Regions from separate parts of the Homo sapiens genome. Here region 1 is linked to region 2. The links come from fine-mapping of genetic effects on gene expression. A gene starts in region 2. The other region holds a variant in brackets. All regions are shown on one strand. Distances are from middle to middle.

Region 1 (10,112 bases), 32 kb after region 2:
GACTTATCTGGAGGTGAGCAAAGTATGTTTGGTAGTGAGGTCACAAAGGCAATCAGCCCCTTCCTCCCCACTCCCATTGCCATCTTCTCAGTCCTTCTCCCTTTCTTTCCAAGTAGTTTACCCACCCCTCCTCTTTCCTCCCCTGTCCCTAAAATAATCCACGTGTCTTCCTAAAATCTCTCTTTGATCCTGTCCTTTGATAACACCGTCAGTGCCTACTACTGGGTCTAGACAGACCTCTGTTGAGCAGTCAGAGTCTTCCCTGACTCCACAATGCCCCTTTCCTTGGCTGACCAGTATGACTACTGGTCCCCACCTTTCCCTTGCCTATCCCTACCTCCCTCCTACTAGGTTGTCCCATCCCTCTCTTCACCCATTCATTCATGACCATTTTTCACTACCAAGCTCCCCCCCTCCCGAAGGAGGCTGAGGTTTTTGTGACTCTCTAGACTCTATTGTGGGATGGAATGAACATTGCTAAAGAATCTTGTGTTCGCTTTACTTTAAAAAGGTATTTTTTTCCTAATTATAAAACTGATGTGTCAGTTACGGAAAAATTAGAAATGCAGCACAAATACATGAATATTTTACCACAAAATTGCCATATAATATCTTGTCTTTTTTGGGGGTGTGAATTTTTTGCATTGTTCTGGTCATATTCTTTATCATGTAATTTATGTTCTTTTTTACTAAGTATTATGTGTGGTTATTATAGATTTTCACAAAGATATATTGCTGGTAATATATTTTATTGTGTAGTCTTATAATTTACTTAACCTTCTTTCAATTGTTAGAAATTTAGGCTATTTCCAGATTTTCAGTATTGTAAATAATGCTGTGATGACCAATTTTGTGAATAAAATGTTTTTATGTATTTCAGATTATTCCCTTAGGATAGTCTCTCAGTGCCAAGTTGTCAAAAACATCTCTATTTTGCTTATCTTCCTGCTCTCTTGCTGCCTTAGGGGGTAGTAAACTGAAACATAAAGTAAACATGCATACAAATAAAAAACATAAAACAAAAATAAGCAACCTGATGGTAATAGGTGAAAGTGGTAACCTGTTTTAACTTTGAATTCTTGCCGGGCGCGGTGGCTCACGCCTGTAATCCCAGCACTTTGGGAGGCTGAGGCGGGTGGATCACGAGGTCAGGAGTTCAAAACCAGCCTGGCCAAGATGGTGAAATCCCGTCTCTACTAAAAATACAAAAATTAGCCGGGCGTGGTGGCGGGCGCCTGTAATCCCAGCTACTTGGGAGGCTGAGGCAGAGAATTGCTTGAACCCAGGAGGCGGAGGTTGCAGTGAGCCAAGATCGCGCCACTGCACTCCAGCCTGGGTGACAGAGCGAGACTCCGTCTCAAATAAAAAACAACAAAAAACAAAAAAAACTTAAAATTCTTTGCTTGTTAGTGACCTTGATCATGGTTCTCTTTGTACGATAGTTGGGCATCTGTATTTCCACTTGTGTGAATTTGCCTTTAAATTTTGGTTATGGGTTTCACCTTTTAAAATAATCAAACATATTTATCTTTTCCTGTGTGATAGGTTTTTTTCTGTATCTTTTCCTGTTAAACACACAGACCCCTCCCCAATCTGGACATTGAATAAATATTCATTTTCCTTTGCATTGTTTGGGGTTTGGTTTTATGCTTACTGTGTCTCTCCACCCCATTATCAGAGTAATATATGCTCATTGCATAAAATCTGGAACATGTGAAAACTGGAGATGAAAAGAAGCCCAGCATTTGAGACATACCCACTGCTGACATTTGTATATTTCCTTTCATTCTTTTACCTGCCTAAAGACATATATGCAGATATGGACATATTTAGCTTTACATACATGCAGACTACCACATATAATCTATATCTTGTTTTTTTGATCTAACACAATGTTAGCTTGGTTTTTTATGTCATTGACAGTTCTTGATTAACAGCTGTAATGGCTGCACAGCCCTGCTTCATTAATTTTTTTTTTTGGACTGAAATGTATGTACCACGTTCCGCTTATCCATTCATCCACCAGTGACCACTTGGGTCATTTCTACCTTTTGGCCATTGCAATAATGTTGCTGTCAACAAGGATGTACAAATATCTGTTCGAGTCCCTGCTCTTAATTGTTTTGGGTATACACCCAACCTACATTAATCTTTAATCACTTAAGATGTTGGGGTTTGTGCTGGGAGGTAACCAAGTGACTCTGGAGCAGCCTCACCCTAGCTACAGAGGGAAACTGACTCTTCCCTCTCTGCCCAATCTTTTGCCGCCTGTCAGGTTCCCAAGCTGTCCATACCTTACTGTGTGAAGCGCTTTGGGTATAAACTCCCAAATAGAGGCTCAGCCCCTTTTCCTTTCCCAAGTCCATCCTGCAGGTTATAGCTCTTCAGAGGAATCTCTTGAATTCTGGCCTGGGATCTGGGATTAAAGTAGAACCCAGGGTGTCCCTTGGGGCCTTAGGCATAGCCCGTTGTGGTGGAACCTGCCATCAGCCCCACTGCACTCAGTGGTCCCCTGGTACTTCAGGACAGTTTCTCTCTTCTGCACATGAGAACTTCAAGCAGAGAGGACTGTCAGTTGTTGCCTTCACATCACCAATCGTTTGGCCATAATGGCCAAGAGCCCTCACTGCTCTTGGGTCTTGCCTTTCCACATGTTACTGAAAGCTCCCGTTGGTGTCCCTGTCCACTAACTCACCTGATGGGACAGATGCCACTTTCCTCTGAGTGTCTGATAAAACACAGTCTGTTGTGGGGAGCCCACGCTCAAGGGTTTTCTTTGGGATCAGAGTTTCCCGGCTATTACTCCATGCCCTGCCTGACATCACTGTCATGTATGGTGCTAATCACCAAAGGATGCCCTTGTTTGATTCTGGATTCTAGGTGATAGTCCTTATCCTCTGATGGGGGAAGAGTTTGGGTGGGAGAGAACAAACCGACAAGTTGGTTCCAGATGAGGTGGCTGGGAGCCAACCCTCAGGTACTTGGCTCTGAGTAATGTGACGGCCCAGGCAAGAGGGCTCCCACTGCCAATGAGGAACAAAAGCTCAAGGTCTAGTAGTGTATTCAGCACATGCTAGGAAACAAGAGTTGGGACGTGGACAAGGAGAGGAGCAAAGGCCAGGGGTTAACTGCTTTTGGTTTTTCCTCTATAAAAGTCAGGGACTATGATTTATATGGGTGAGAAGGTTTGGAGTAGGACTGAAGCTGCCATTTACAAACCCCTTGCCCTAATTTATTGTAGTTTTGGGTGTGTTTCTGAAAGAACCTTTTGCAGGTGATTTTTATTCAGTACTCATTAACTTACAGCTTTTATGAATTCACATCTTCTACACTATTGAAAAACATAAGTTTGTATTGTGTTAAGTGCAGCATGAGTTATTATATGAATAAATCACATTAAATTTGCCATTATCGTGTGTGCAATTCTTGCTGCTGGTTTGGGACCGCTTGGTGCTGCCTTAAAATAAAAGGAGCCATTTAACAGAGCTTGATACCGTGGTACAGGTGTGCCCCCTTAAAGTATCCAACCTGTTCCTCCCCATGTGAGGGCCAAGGCAGCTGTGGTGTGGGTTTTATTAGGGAGTTGAATTCTTGAGGGTAGATGGTGAGTTGCACTTGACCATAGACACACTTTTCTGGGCAGTGGTATGTCTCTCAGCTTGCCCTGCAGTTACAGTACAGAGACTCCCCAGAAAGAAAGAG[G/A]AAGTGGGCTGACCAATTAGGTAGGCTTAGGGAAACCATATATGCAATAGCAACAAGGTAAAGGAAGCAAATTAGTGGGTTCTTGGGGTTCCAACTGGAAATTTGCCTGTTTAGTGGTCTTGGCTTAGTGTCTTCATGAGCCTTAGTTTATCTTTTTCTACCTATCCTACTGGTTTCGACTAAAAATTCGGAAGGCAGTGCTTCTTATATTGGTGAGGACATTGGAAGACATACATTTCCAAATAGATAAAGGCAGGCTGGAAGGATTGAGTAAATCTCAGCAGGTGAAGTAACTTCAATGTATTCATTTACTGGCTTGTTTATTATGTATGGTGCGAAGTTTAAAAGGCACAAACATGAGGGAGGATTGCTTGAGGCCAGAAGCTCAAGACTAGCCAGGGCAACATAACAAGACACCCATCTTTACACAAATTTTTAAAGAAATTAGCTGGGTGTGGTGGCATGGCACCTCTAGTCCCAGCTACTCGGGAGGCACAGGCAGGAGGATCACTTAAGCCTGGGAGTTCAAGACTGCAGTGAGCTCTGATCATGTCACTGCGCTCTGGCCTGAGTGACAGAGTGGGACCTTGTCTCAAACAAAGGCACAAACATGTATACAATGAAGAGTCATTTCCTCTTCCATGCTGTTCCCAGCTACCCTATTATCCTCAGAGGCAAGCATGCCTACCAGTTCTTGGAAACTGCTGAAGTTTGAAAAGGATAAATGGAGACCTAACAGGAAGGCCCCAGAACCAAGGTGCTAGTGAGGGGTGACCCAAGGGAGCAGTATTGCACATGCAACCCTTTTACATTGTGGCCAACAGCTCAGAATGGGGATGCGGTGTGATGTGGCTGCCAGGAAGTGAAAGGCATCTCAGGCTACATAAATGGATATCCAGGAGGAAGGAGGAGGTAAGCTGCTCTGCCTACGTGTCACGGTCAGCCAGCACCTGGAGAATTGTGTTTAGTTGCGAACATGGAGCTGTCATGGAAATGTGGACAAACTGGAGCCTGTTCAGAGGACAGCCCTAAGATGGGTGAGACCCAGCATATCATGTGAGGAACAGTTGAAGAAGTGTTCAAATGGGGAGAGAAAAGACTCGGGTGGGTAAAAGTAGGGGGTTGGGGGGAGAGCATGGCACTATCTTGAAATTTCTGAAGAACCATCAGAGGCAAGAGAGATTAAACACATGATATCTAGAGCCCCAAGGGAAGATCCAGCACTGGACCCTGCAAGGAGACAGATGGCCATCCAGAGGTTGAACTTTCGGCCGGGTGTGGTGGCTCATGCCTGTAATCCTAGCACTTTGGGAGGCCAAGGCGGGTGGATTGCCTGAGCTCAGGAGTTCGAGACCAGCCTGGGCAGCTTGGTGAAACCCTGTCTCTACTAAAATACAAAAAAAACCAAAAAAAATTAGCCAGGCTTGGTGGCGTGCACCTGTAGTCCCAGCTACTTGGGTGGCTGAGGCAGGAGAATTGCTTGAACCTGGGGGGTGGAGGGTGCGGTGAGCTGAGATCGTGCCACTGCACTCCAGCCTGGTGACAGAGTGAGACTCCGCCAAAAAAAAAAAAAAAAAAAATTAAAAAACAGAGGCTGAACTTTCTAACATAGCAGCTTACCATTGAAGGAGCCTGCTCCTAAGTGTGGTGAGCTGTCATCTGAGCTATGTAAGCATCACGTAGGCAAGAGGTTCTCAATAGAGAGCAGTTCTCCTCTTGGGACATTTGTCAGTGTCTAGGGTCATATTTGGTTATCACAACTGGGGAAAGGCTGCTACTAGCATCTAGTGTGTAGAGGCCAGGGATGATAGGAATCACACACAGACAGCACCCCCTCCCCCAGAACAATAAAGAACTATCTGGCCCAAATGGCAATAGTTCCAAGGCCGAGAAACTCTAACATAGGCAAACATTTGCTACAGAAAGAAAAACTACTAAAATCCCCTCTTTCTCTGAGACTTCTATGATTGGAGAATGCATGCTCAATTATTAAAATAGCATGCTGACTATATCAGGTGATTGGCCCTTTGCATATAGCCTTGAATACATTTTTAAAGATTGCAAGGAGCTTTCAAATCAAGATGATTTAATAACAAACCATTTCATGTAGTAGTAGTAGATTGGATTTCTCTTTCTTCCTGTTCAGTGGAGAGACCCTCCCATCTGAGTTTCCTCACCCATAGAAAAGATGTTAAATAGGTGATTTCTTTTAAAAAATAATATTGCATTTTTTCTCAGTTGAAAAATTATTACATATTCATCACAGAAAAATTAGAAAAATATACAAAAGCAAAGAAAATAATCTAACACCACTGTTTACTTGGCATAGTCCTTCCCCTGAATAATACATATATAAAAAAATGGTTCATACTCTATCTCCTATTGGTTTTTCTACATCCTGTTTTACAACCTGGGTGTGTGGTGGCATGGCACCTCTAGTCTGCTTTTCACACTGTGTGATTTCTAAGGGCTTCCCCAATTCCAAATTTCTGTGACACACAAATTGGAAGAATTTCCATATAAACATGTGAGGCCATTTCCTGGAGGACAAAACTAGAAACCTCTGAGTTTCCTTCCTCTCCCATGACGTCTAATAAATGTGAGTGTTTCCACAAAAGATAATACTGAGGATGCTGCTTTTCCTAGCCTTGAGTTTCATGACTCTGTTTGCTCACAGAGTGCCCTGGATAGCCCAGAAACTCTATGGAATAGAGACATCCATCACCAGGCCTTGTGGATTTTACCTCTTTGTGTATCCATGTATCCATCTGATACATGCATCCACTGATACTTTGTGTATCAGTGTATCCATCCAGGTTTCTACCTCCACCGGGTACCATTCTGAAGCCATCTCCTATCACTTGGACATGGAACCACTTCCTAACTGATCTCCTACTCTTGCTACACTGCAAACAAGTTCACACAGTTCTGAATATGATCTTTGCAAAATGCAAACCTGATTGTGTCTCTGCCTACCGCTTGTACCTCCCTGCTCTCCCTCCCTCCCAATGGCTTCCCATTACTATGTGGACAAGCAGAAAACACCTGAACCTGCCCTTTGTGTAGACCATTCATGGTTTGCCCCCTGCTGACCTGCCACACCTCCTTGTTTTAACTCCTACTCCATCTTCATGGCCAACTTAACCCTTCCTTTCCAAGGGCATTCTTCCCTGATGCCTTTGACTAGGTTGCATAGCAGCTTGCATCACACACATACCACTTCTTCATAGTCCTCAGCTTGGTTGTACTTTTTCACTGGTTTGTGTAATTATTTCATTTGTATCTGTTTCCCCAGAAAGCTCCATGGGGGTAGAGAGTGTCTATTTTTGCATCATTGCCTCCTAGTGCCCAGTACACAGTAACACCCACAACAAATGTTTGTGGAATGAATGAATACAGTGTTCATAATGGCCGCATTGTTTTCTGTCATTTCCCTAAGCTCCTATTGCTGACTCTTTAGGTTGTTTCCAGTGTCATTTCTATTACAAACTATGATGCAGAGAACATCACCATGCAGCCATCTTTGTGCACTTGTGTATTAATGTATCTCTAAAGGATAAAATTGTAGAAATAGAATTCTTGGGTCAAAAGCATGTGTAGAGGACATTTGACATGATGTTGGACACCAGCATCCTAAGTGCCTTTCTCTACTTGGGAAATTCTGCACTCAATTATTTTGAGTGGCAGGCAGGGAGAGCCCTCTTGCCACTGCAGAGGTGCAAAGTGCCAGGAGCTCATTTTCCCATGACTTCCTTGTGGCTAGACAGCAGGCATATGACTTTGACTCAACTCAGCAAGATGCTTTCCTCCTTGAGTTGGTAAAGCAGGAACCAGTGTGAATTCATCTTCCCCCAGAGGAAGGCTCTGTGGTGATGTTAACCACCAGTGTCCAGCACTGGTAGTGTCACTATGGTTACCAAACTGTTTTTGTGTGGTTATGGCAGCTTGCCTGGTCACCTTTGTCCTTACCTGTTTTTTAGGTTTGAGACTTTGGCCTTCTCTGGGATTCTATGAGCTACTCAAGCCTTTCAAAAACAAACAGACAAAAAAGAAAAAACCTTTTTTTTCTGCTTAAATTAACTAGTCAGTAAAACAACCAGGGCTCCTGATTGATGAAGTGTCTGCATTTGAAAATCTGGAAGTTAGTGCCAAATTTCCTCCAGAGAGGTAGCACAAATTCACACTCCCATCAGCAGAGTGCACAGAACCTGAGTTCCTATCTTCCCTCTAGTACTTCTTACGTTGCTTTGCAATGACCTATTTCTAAGGAAGGGGACATTTCTTATTCATTTTTCTAGACTAAGCCTCTAACCTAGGGCCTGGCAAATTTAGGCACTTACATGTTTGCTAAATGAATGAATGAAAATAATTGTCTTTAAAGAGTTTGAGAAAGACCAAAGGTACCGTAGCTTGAATCAGAGACTGGGAGTTGGAAGGACACTCATCCACCTCCTTATTTGTTTATTTTCCTTTTGCTTTTTTAGAGACAGGATCTCCCTATGTTGCCCAGGCTAGCCTCGATTTCCTGGGCTCAAGCGATTCTCCTACCTCAGCCTCCCAAGTCGCTGGGACTACAGGCATGCACCACTGCAGCTCCTTATTCTGAGGTGGGAGCTTAAAGCCCAGAGGAGGCAAGCAGCTCCACCAAGGAGACACAGCTAGCCAAGTGGAAGCAGCCTCAGATCCAAGTCCACCAAGTCTATTTTCAGCCCACCTCCAAGTCCAGTCTTCTGCAAGGACTGCTGCTTCCACAAGGTTTCTCTTCTTGGGTCTCCCGATCCAGGGAGTAGATTTCAGCTGAAATGATGTGCAAAGGAGCCACCTCAAAGCTATGAAACCGCCAGAAAATCACTTTGTGAAAGGAAGAAGGCTGGCGACCACCCGTTTGGAAAATTGCCTTTGTAGTAACTGGGGGGCACACATGTGTGTGGAAGGATCAAGCGTCAGCCTTGCTATGGCCACAGTTTTGATTTTCCTTTATTCTTTGTATTGCTTTCAAATCAAAGGGAAGCCGTAGCAGAGAACCTCTTGCCCTGAGCTACACATATGAAAATGAACAAGGTTATGGGAGTCGCGTGTTTTCAATAATGGATCGCTGGTGCCGCCCTTTCTAGGAAATGAAGCGAGGCTGTTGCTAGGTTGGCGGTAAGAGGCACTGGGCAGGGGTAGGGGGTCCTAATTCCAGTGGTTTTACCTTTCCCACTATTCATTCCAGTCCAACCAATTGATAGAATAAGAATCAATTCTGAGCAGAACAGTGTCTCATTCTATTTCAAGCCCCCCCCAACCTGCTTTTTGACATTTCTATCACCACAGCTTGATAGAGAAAAATATTCACAAAGCCGAGTCCGTTTTGAAGAGAACATCTGTAAAATTGGGTCAGCAGATACGTTACACGTTGGCGTGGAAGATGAAATAGAACCCTGTCTGGTCTGAGCTTCACAGCAACAGGGAAGGGCTTTGTTTCCACGGCGGCGCGCACTTGGATTTGTGCCTTACAGCTCTGATCCGGCCACACAGCCCAGGCCCCTGGGCAGCCACAGGGCGCCGCCGCCTTCCGCCCTGGCTTTAGGGACAAGCTGGAGCCTGGCGGTGGAGACAGCGTGTGGTTCCTCAGAGAACCACTGGAGGCCGCTGTGGCACCAAGAACGCACGAAGGGCGCCCGGCTGGCGGAGTGGGAGTCTCCAAGGAGTAATGACTGTCGCACACACTGACTGTTCTCAAATTCTAGTCCAGGATTTTAAAGACACTGTTATGAATTAACGAGAATAAAATACTCGGCAGATGAAGCTCGGGTCTCAGATCCCCTGGGGTTCTTTTCTAACTGCTTTCTCATTCCCACCCCCCCCGGAACTGGGTCTCATTTGCAATCCACGAGGCACAGGCTTTATACATGATGGAAACGTCTTCCAAAAACGACACAAATGCACAAATGTTACCCTTGCAGCCTATAGTATTCATCCCCAAATACTATTGCAAAATATTATGCTATTTTCTCTATCAAGCAGTATTGGCGGCAGGTGCCAACCACCACGTGGGCCGCAGGAATACAGCTGCTGGATAAAATGCAGGATGCCCAGTTAAATATGAATTTCAGATGAACAATAAATAATTGCTTAATATAAGTATGTCCCACGTAGTACATGGATCATATTTATACGACATAATTATTCATTGTTTATCTCAAATTCAAATTTAATTGGGAGTCCTGTGTTTTTATCCGTAAAATCTGGCCTCCCTTCACAGAAAGGGTGACTCCGGTGAGGTAGCAAGGAGGTACCCTGGTGCCCTGAGGGCACTCAGAGCTGGGAAGTGGTCAGAACTGAAGCTGAGCACAGAGTTCTATTCCAATGTGGGCGGTAATATGTGTCACATGTTCTCACAGAGAACAAATAGGCTCTTAGACCTG
Region 2 (10,121 bases):
AAGGTGGGAACCAGGCAGCCAGCTGGGGGCAAGCTGGTGGTTTCTGCATTGGGATACAAAGTAAGGGTTAAGACTGGGGGCCTCGAGGCTTTGCTCCTGCCCAGGATTTAACTGCAATGCTTAGGCTCCAAGATTCGATGGAAAGAAATCCCAGCTGTGGGCTCTGAGGACTTTGAAAACTATGTTTCATATGTGAATACACTTGCCCTTTAGCAAGAATCTCCGCTGATAAGCCTTCCTCCTCTGAGTGTTTTTATTGGTCCCTTAGAAAGTGTTAGAGAAATTTCCCATTTTGATAGACTTTTTAATGATGTTACAAAAATATCATTTCACATTGATTCCACAGGGGGGACATCTGCTGCTTCCCAAATGCCACATTTCTTCAAATAAAAAGCAGAAGACAGCATGCAGTACATAAGGAACTCATGTCTTGGTAAAGACAAAATTGAAATTCTTTTAATAATTAGTCTCATGTCATAGAAAAGAGGACTGATTTTCCTCACCCACCCAGCAAGGTTGCTCTTCTTGCTATACTTGTTTGGCATAAACTACTGACTTCTTGCGAGCACTGATCTTAAGAGGGCCATGGTAATGAGTCACGGTAATTTGGCATGTCTTTGAAGATCCTTCCTCCTACACTTCTGTTTGTCCCCTTGAAGGCATCCTATTTCAGGCTGTGTTTAGCTATTCCTTTTGTTGATGCGTCCACTCATGCCTGAGGTATGTCTCATAACACACCTGTGAGAGGGGACCTTGGAGGAACGTCACCAAAGGCCGAGGAGCAATGTCTTTGCAGTGTTTCCCAGTCCATCTTGTCCTCTGGCTTTTACTTCAGAAGGGACACTCCTGCCTTGCTGGCAAGAGGGGATGGGCTTTGCCTTGAATTCCAGCTGTGGGCTCCGCTTTGCAAGATATCTGCTTGTCAGAACCTGAGACTGCAGGTGTGCAGGGTCTGGTCTATATGACCACGGGACAGGTCCCAGGTATATGACTGACAGGCCTGAGGGACCAGAAGCCCTTCTCCTTACCCAAGCCCAGATGGAGAAAACTTCAACTGTGAGAGCCCTCCTTTATTCCCAAACGGCCATCATTGTTTCCCTTCCCTGTGGCTTTTTATAAAGAAATCTGGGGGAGTAAGAATAAATCGTTTCTAGATCAAAGAGAAACAGCGAAAACCAGGAGAAAAGGCGGTAGCCAATGTACCCACTCCATTCAGATGAATGCAGTCCAAACAGAAAGACAGCCAGTCATACATCACTCAGTGACAGTGCAATGCAATACTTCCAAAGATCTGATTAGGCACTTCTGTTTTTCTTATTTTAAGCTTATGCTTTACAAAGTAAGTTGTTGTTTTTCGTTTTGTTTTGTTTTAAACGAATCGCCTTTAAAGTAGTGGGGGCAAAACACCAGAGCTTAGGCAACCCCTGGTGGAGGCTTTTATAATTCCTCTACTTTTTGGCTTTGACAGCATGAGGGTTGCCTGCTCTAAGCCCTGCCTATCCATCCACCCAGAACTGAAGTGGCTGAATCATTGCCTGGCATGACAGGAAAGTCTTGGGCTTGAGGGGAGAAAAAAAAAGAAAAGAAGAGAGGGAAGACGGTGGGACGAGAACTGGAAAGAAGAGGAAGGAAGGGAAAGATTGTTCAGAGGACGATGCAAGATGTCCACAGGCAAACGGGACTGAGACTAACCTCTTCCATTGTGAGAGAATATCTCAGCTCCTAAAGTTTTTGATATAGTATGTGATGCAGGGTAGGAGCCCAGCAAATGTCAGGGCTTCTGTGATGCCCAGCCCCTTGGCTGCCCCCTCATGCTCCATGCGGCTTCACTTCTTCCTGGGAAGTAAAACAGAATCAGATTCTGGCTGTGTTGCCATTCACTTTCACTCCTCTGGAACCCCAGGGAGCCTAGGGCTGCTACTGCTGCACCTTAGTCCTCAGGGTAGCACAGACCTGGCTACGGAACTAGATGCCTATGGATGACCATCTATACTCTCCAGAGTTCAGATTGAGAGCAGAGTTCTAGCACGTTGCCTCACGCACCTTGAGATAGTCTCTTCTGGGAACAGTGCCCTCCGTGCCCAGCGCATTTGGGTAACATTCACAGCCCACGTTAGACTCCTCCTTGGAACACCATTTCACGTGCCTACAGAGCCCAGGGCCCTCCCTATGACTCTGCAGGGGAGAGAGCCCTCACTGGCATTGGGCTGAGGACAGCCTGGGACACTCCCTTTCCTCATCCAGGTAGTTCTCATCATGGTTCTCATCCCGAGCCCTTGAAACCCCACGAAGGTACTAGCCCCTGGGATACAGTAGTAAATGGACAGGGCAGAGCCTGCCCTTGAGGGGTGCCCATCCAAGGATCCCTGGATCTGGAATGAGAGACAAATCTTGAATTCTCCCCTGAATCCTCATCCTACCATTGTGTGGGACTATATACCAATTTGCCAGTGTGCATTGTCCCCTCCTCCTGGAGTTAGGCTCAAAGGCGGGGGTAGGGTAGAAGTCCAAGAGCAAGGGGACTCCCTTTGCTGTATGGTACCCTAGAAGGTCCAGAGTCCTAGAACTCCTCTCACACCAAATCCACATATCTTAGCTGCAGAAGTGTCTGGAGCAGTCCCCTGAGCTTCCTGTGACACTAAAGTGGCATGGGAAAGCAGTTGAATTTTCCCGTGCCTCCAAGGAGGTAAGAGAGGGAGGGAGAGAGAAAGAGGGAAAGAGAAAGAGGGAGAGAGGGAGAGGGAGAGGGGGAGAGAGAGAGCGAGAGGGAGAGCACGTCTCCAAAAAATGTCACATAGAAAATGGCATGGACTGTGCAGCTAGGAACCAGGTTAGAATGACGACACCACATTGGAAGACAGCATGAAGGTATGCCATCTCTGAGCGCTGGATGGGATTGTACATTGGGAGTGGATGCTGGCATGGACAGGTTGCCATTGACAACAAGCAGATTCTCTTCTCTCTTGCTCTCTCTCTCCGAATTTAAGAGTCTCACAGAATTTAGGTGATAGGCTGGGGCAAAGGAGACAATCCTAAATTGCTTGATAACAATAATTGGTAATTAGTAAGACAATCCCGAAGTAACTGGGAAAATGTGGAATTGACTAGATTAAATTTTCTGTTATCTGTTGGAGTTGAGACTCAAGATAGGGCTCTTTTGTGGTAGATGCCATTCTAGATGGCCCCCAAGTTTCCTGCCTCCTAGTGTATGTGACCCCTTGTGTATGGGTAGAATGTACTACAATCAGCCTCCTTATCCATGTGTTCCACATCTGTGGATTCAACCACCTGTTGAATTTGAAAAAGATGGGTGGTTGTCTCTGCAGTGAACATGTACAGACTTTTTTCCCTTGTCATTATTTCATAAATAATGCAGTATAATAACTATTTACATGGCACTTACATTGTATTAGGGATTATAAGTAATCTAGAGGTAATGTAAAGTATACGGGAGGATGTGTATGTATGTTATATGTAAACACTGCACCATCTTATATAAAGGACTTGAGCACCTGTGGATTGTGCTATCCACAATCCCGAGCTTTAAGTGAGAATGTAGTCCTTCACTGCAGCCTTTTGAGACCCTGAACCTAAGACCCAGCTTAGCTGTGCCTGGATTTCTGACCCACAGAAAGTAGGAGGTGACAAATGAGTAGTGTTTACAGCCACTAAGCTTGTGGTCATTTGTTACATAGCATTGATTGGCCCTTATCCCTCATTCACTGAAGACTCAGGTACCAGGCTCACAGGTGACCTTGGTACCCTGTGTCCTGTCATCATTCTGGGGGACTGCAGTGTATTCATCAGCAGCCTGTGCCACTCACAGACCCTTGACTTCTTCCTCATCTCTAACCTCTAGCAATCTCTTCCCCCCCACCTCAGCCTCCCAGCTTCAAGGCCACATCCTTGACCTTTAAATCACCAGGATCTGTTTTACCTCAGAAATCTTAAATTTCAGGGTCTCATTCTGGGACTAAAACCAGTACTCTCACACCCTTGCTGCCTCTCTATATCCTCACCCATCTCCTAGATCTTTGTTTGTCCCCAGTCCACCAGTCTTCTTAACCACTGTCAGCCACCTGAACTGCTCTCTTACTGGCTCTCTCCACTTGCTCCCACTCTTGTCCTTCTGCTGCTATGAGCCCCAGCAAAACCTCGAGCTTACACCAGAGCAAACAAACAACAAAAACAAACACACACAATTGTGCCAAGTGGCATATATAATTTTCTATCCCAGCTGAGACAATCAATCTTGTTAAATTTTGAATTGTTTATAGGTAGTGTTAGTTTTCTAGGGCTGCTGTAACAAAGTACTACAAATTACATGGCTTAGAACAACAGAAATGCATTGTCTTACAGTTTTGGAGGCCAGAAGTCTTAAATCAAGGTGCCAGCAGGACCATGCACCCCCTGAAACCTATAGAAGAAGAATGCTTCCTTGCCTCTTCCTAGCTTCTTGTGGTTTGCTGGCAATCATTGGCATCCACTGGCTTGTAGATGCATCACTTCAATCCATTGTCTTCACATGGATGTCTTCTCTCTATGTGTTTGTGTCTGTGTCCAAATTTTTTCTTTTGATAAGGACCCCAGTCATATTGGATTAGGGCCCAACCCAATTACCTCCTTTTAACTTGATTACCCTGTTAAAGACCCTGTTTCCAAATAAGATCACATTCTGAGGTACTGGGTGTTAGGACTCCAACATACAATTTTTGGGGGGAGGACACTAACACCTAAGTCAAAAAGGACCAAAAGACATACCATACAAAGCAAAGGCCCTCTGCCCTGCACCTTCCCTCTTCTGTTCTCATTTTAAATGTTTCTACTTTCATTTCTTCTAGTAGATTGTCCCTGTCTTTCTAAATACTATGCTATTTCTATATCAACTTTCTAATGTTTTCAACTTTAGACATTGCTGACTTCTTCCTATGATAGATGAGATCACTTATCCATTCCTCTTTTTATGTACATATTTTTAACCTTGGATTTTGGAAATTGATCAAACCTATACAAGATTACAGAAAATAGTATAATAAACCCCAGGTGTTCATCAATGAACTTCATTGGTTATCAACTCATGACAAATTTTGTTTCATCTCTCCCTGCCATTTTCCCTTCTCCTTTTACTATATAGATTTATTGCCATTTTTAAGTTTTCTATTGTTTACTTTTGTATCTTTAAGTAATATCCCTAAATCTGTATTTCTCTTTCTATGAACTGGGGACAGCGACTATTGATTTATTATTATTATTATTATTATTTTTTTGCGATAGGCTGGGGCAAAGGAGACAATCCTAAATTGCTAACCCTAAATTAATGTGCCTACATTTCCTGCCATCTCCCTTCCTCCTCCCAGCTTTTTGTCAACTGTTGCTGCAGGCCAGGTTCCCAAGGAAGCTGACTAAGATGTAGAGTAATGTGCAGGAAGTTTCTTAGGGAGTACTCTTAGGATCAACACCTGTAGAAGGGGAGGGGAGGGAAGAAATCAAAATTCAACAGACAGAGAAAGTGGGCAGTCTCAAAAAAGGCTTCAGTTAACCCCACAGGGAGCTCTGAAGCTGAAATGGCCTTTCAGAGATGTCCCAAGTTGGGGTAAGGGGCTGCACCTTTGTACCTTCAAGTTGAATCACTGATGTGGGCTTCCTGAGAACAGGGGTGACCTTGGCTGAGGTACCTATCTTTTTCTAAGACAATTTCTGATGAGGGCTAACGACAGCTAACAGCTCTCAAGCCAGCTAGGGAAATAAAATTTTTGGTGTTGAAGGGAGATCTGAGCAGTGCACCACAGCACCATCACAGCTGTATTTGTACCTTCCCATTGTCCATTGTTGTTTAGTCATAATTAAGTCATCTGGGCTTTGTTATAGATTGATTCTCAAAGTTGAAAATCAAACTGTGTTTGCAGTATTAGGACGGTATAATAGTATTCAGTACAGTACAGTGTAGGGCTAGGATTCCATCTCCCCACAATTGCTGCTCTCTCTGTTTGGCGCACCCTTCTTGCAGACCTCAATGCGGCTTGCTCCCTCACTTGCTTCAAAATTTTGTTCAAATGCCACTTCACTAGTGAGGCCCTGCCTGGCCACCCCATAGAAAATAACAAGCATGCCCCGCACCCACGCTTTATTTTTCTCCAGACCGGGTATGCCCACCGACACTCTCTATATTTTTTTATTGTTTTAAGCTCCACCAAAGCAGGGACATAGAGCCCCAGTGCCACCAACAGCGCCTGGTATACATATTTGCGATACTTAATAAGAATTAGTTGAAGAAATGAATAGGAAAGGGAGTCCCTTTAGATGGAGGAAGGGACTTTCTCAAAAGGCCTCATGGAAGGAGAATGGCATTGAGGCTGGCTTACAAGAAGTGTGTCTTTTATAAAAAGAAGGAAGGGCAGGGCTTCCAGGTGAAAGGCATAGCACAAGCAAAGGCAAAAAGACGGGTAACTGCTAGTTGTTAAGGGCAGTGGCTGAATCGCTATACCCCTAGCAGTTCTACACCTAGGGGCCTGCGGGCCGCTGGGTCTGCGAAGCTTGCAAGGCAACTGGCCCGCCCCCGCTCTGCGCCTGTCTCTCGGCCACGCCTATTGCTGCAGGATGACGCGCACCTCTAGAACCCGCCCCGGAGGGGAGGGACGCAGGGAAGAGTCGCACGGACGCACTCGCGCTGCGGCCAGCGCCCGGGCCTGCGGGCCCGGGCGGCGGCTGTGTTGCGCAGTCTTCATGGGTTCCCGACGAGGAGGTCTCTGTGGCTGCGGCGGCGGCTGCTAACTGCGCCACCTGCTGCAGCCTGTCCCCGCCGCTCTGAAGCGGCCGCGTCGAAGCCGAAATGCCGCCACCCCGGACCGGCCGAGGCCTTCTCTGGCTGGGTCTGGTTCTGAGCTCCGTCTGCGTCGCCCTCGGATCCGAAACGCAGGCCAACTCGACCACAGGTGCCGCCCACGCCCTCCCTGCCATCTCTTCTCCCTTCCTCCCTCCCTTCCTTCCTCCTTCCTTCTTTCCTTCCTTCTTTGTTTATATCCATTCTTTTTACCCTTCCTCTCTCCTACCATTCCTTCTTTCATCCATCATTCGTTCCCTCCCTCCATTTTTCACTCCTTCCTACCGTCCCTTCATCCCTCCCTTCCCTCTTTCCATCTATTCATCCATCCATCTCCTATCCCTCCGTGCTTCCCTTCCTCTTTCCCCCCATCTTTCCCATCTCTATCCATCCATCTTTCCCCCTCCTTTCCTCCCTCCATTGGTCCATCCGTCCCTTTTACCTTCTATCCATTCATATTTCTCTCTCTTCTCCCCTCCTTCTCTCCATCCTTTCTTCCCTTCAGCTATTCATCTTTTCCTCCTTATCTTCCTCCATCCAACCATCTGTCCTTTCCTGCATACATCATTCTCTTTTTTTCCTAAATTCATCTTTCCTTTCCACCATCTTTCACTCACTATCTCGCTTCCTCACCCAGGTTGGAGGCCATGACCAAAGCCTAACCCTGCCACCCAGGACTCAGGCTTCCTCCTCGAGCCCCACTCCCACCCTTGCTGAGGCACAGCGCCCTCCCTGGCTAGGCTGTTAAGGTGCAGGGTCCAGCCTTGGGCCTCTTAGTAACCTAGCACCTACCATGAGGGAGGGTTCAGTGTCAGTGCAGGTTACCTCACCAAAGCCCCTCCCTCCTGTGTAGATGCTCTGAACGTTCTTCTCATCATCGTGGATGACCTGCGCCCCTCCCTGGGCTGTTATGGGGATAAGCTGGTGAGGTCCCCAAATATTGACCAACTGGCATCCCACAGCCTCCTCTTCCAGAATGCCTTTGCGCAGGTATGTCTGGGAACCTCTAGCTGTGGGTGTGTGCTGCTTCGTGCACTGAGGGTTGGGGGCGGGGAGCTTCAGCTATTGTCAGATGGCACAGATTGTGCGGGACATCTTGTTAGAGGGAAGCATAGTCTGGAAAATGGTAGTGGAGAAAATCTGGTTTTCCACTCATGGGAAAGCTTGACCTTCAAGGGTGGCCTTCTCCTTGGGTGCAAGGTGCGCCCTGGCCCTGATGTGTTCATGGCAGCCCTGGCCAGCTTTCTCCCAGAACGGGCGCTTGCCTGGTGCTCAGAAGGAAGGGGTGCTGCAGAAGGGCACCCACAGGTCTGCAGGCTGGGCCTCAGGTGAGAGCTAGCCAGGGTGGCCCTGCTCCCTGAACCCCCTCATGGCTCTGCCCCCAGCAACACTGGCCGCTCTGTGTGCCTGGGGAGGCCATTGCGTAGGAGGAGATAAGCATCTGCTGGTTTCAGGGGCTGATTGCTTCCCTTTTCTCTCCCGGAAGCAGTCTGTTGCCTAGGTGACACCCAAATCCCAGTGTCTGGTTTGAGCTCTGCATGACTCAGCTACCAAGCTGTTTGCTAGGAGCCTCGGGAGGGCGGTTGCTTGGTTACCTAAGAGATGGCAGACATGTTTTGCTGTGGCGATGCTTACCTCTGCTTCTGCTCCCTAACAGCAAGCAGTGTGCGCCCCGAGCCGCGTTTCTTTCCTCACTGGCAGGAGACCTGACACCACCCGCCTGTACGACTTCAACTCCTACTGGAGGGTGCACGCTGGAAACTTCTCCACCATCCCCCAGTACTTCAAGGAGAATGGCTATGTGACCATGTCGGTGGGAAAAGTCTTTCACCCTGGTACTGCTCCATGTCCAGAGTCTGGGTTCTCTTGGTTTGTGGTGTCTGAATCCAGCATTCCCATCCTGGGGATGGGGCTGTCTTTGCAGAGCCCTCTTCTGGCTGGGCGAGTCCCTCGCTAGTCAGTGCTTCCTTTCTAAAAAACTGACTTGTCAACCCAGCCACGTTTTCACCCAAAGTGAAAAAGGGTAGAAAGAGCTTTGCTTCCTTTCAGAAACCACTGAGGGTGTGCTGTTGGGTCTTTCAGCTCCTCGGGTGGTAGGGAGGACACAGGCTGGGGAGGTGGCAGTGTTGGGTGGAGTCCAGCTCAGGGCCCCACCCTCTCCCCTGCAGGGTACCTGTCAGTAAACCTAGGGGTGGGGTGAGGACACCTGAGGGCCTCCCGTGTGGCCAGCATTGCTGTTGCTGACTTATTGCCCAATGAGGGGGCTGTGCTTAGGTAGGGGCTGCTATCCACTCTGGAAATTAAGTCAGAAAGATGAGTGTAATCTGGTACCCAGGATCTATAGGGTCCCAGAGACGGACATTCCTTACCTCAAATGCTGCCTGATAAACTGGCTCTCTTTAATGCCAATATGGGGATAGTGAAAAGCAAACAAACTTTAAAACTTTTTATTTATAGAAGTAATGCATGAGTATTTGAGAAAAAAAATGGAGAAAAAAGTATTGGAAGACAAGAGCACCATAGGGACAATAATGCTTATCATTTGGGAATGACGAATGTTTTCAGTCTCTTTCCCTTTGCTCAGTGGTTACACCGGCAGGCTTGGCAGCCTTCTGCAGGAGCTCAGCTGGCCAGCCCAGGTTGAGAGTGACATTCAGCTCTACTAAGTCAGGCCAGTTTCAGAGGTGAACCTGTCAGGAATCATATTGCACAGCCAAAAGTCCAGTGTCAGGAGAACTTTCTGCAGTTTGGTGTTCTCATTACCATACCCCTTGCCCAAATGCAGCTGGAGGGAAGTGATGATTTTGGAGAGAGGAGGAAACACAGCAGAGGGAGGAGATTGTGCTTTGGGAGGGGAAACCAGGCAAGGACTGAGTGATGTTGCTTGACCTCCTCCCTCCTGATGATTGGATTTTGGCACCAGGCTCTAAGCACCATGTCCTTCTCAGAGAATAAACCTTTCCCTGCAGCCCTTGTGGGAACACATTTTTCAGCTGAATCTTTGTTCTCAAGACCTTTTTCTGTTAGCATTGGGCCTGCTTCAAGATGACAGTAGCCACCACTGTGTGCCAGGTATGTACCGTTTACCATGCTGGCCACTCCTTTAATCCTCCCAACAGCAAGCAAGGTGGGTTTTTATCATCATCATCATTTCCCAAGGAAGACATGAAGGCTCATGGGAGTCAAGTAGCTTGCCAGAGGTTGCAAGGATGCTAAGAGGCAGCATCAGGATTTGGACCTGTGGTTGTTGGCTTCCTGTGTGCTCTTTCCACAGTGCTTGCTGTCTTCATAGGCCCTCCAC

What was found. PIP is the estimated chance that this variant, and not a neighbour inherited with it, causes the effect.
Region 1: its variant is fine-mapped to the expression of IDS in whole blood (TOPMed, PIP 0.93).

Annotation. Positions count from the first base shown.
Region 1 is chrX:149,470,284-149,480,395 of GRCh38, reverse strand. IDS (iduronate 2-sulfatase) reads left to right here. Exons shown (of 9, transcript NM_000202.8): 9 at 1-3,408. LOC107985667 (a long non-coding RNA gene) reads left to right here and starts at 8,259. Exons shown (of 2, transcript XR_001755972.2): 1 at 8,259-8,847; 2 at 9,019-9,492. RefSeq lists a silencer at 9,144-9,438. The variant G/A (reference allele first, on the strand shown) is at 3,703.
Region 2 is chrX:149,501,846-149,511,966 of GRCh38, reverse strand. It overlaps IDS (iduronate 2-sulfatase), which reads left to right and starts at 6,661. Exons shown (of 9, transcript NM_000202.8): 1 at 6,661-6,932; 2 at 7,674-7,810; 3 at 8,478-8,655. The coding sequence starts at 6,830. RefSeq lists enhancers at 335-1,534, 6,757-6,916, 6,909-7,410, 7,534-8,082 and a silencer at 7,473-7,572.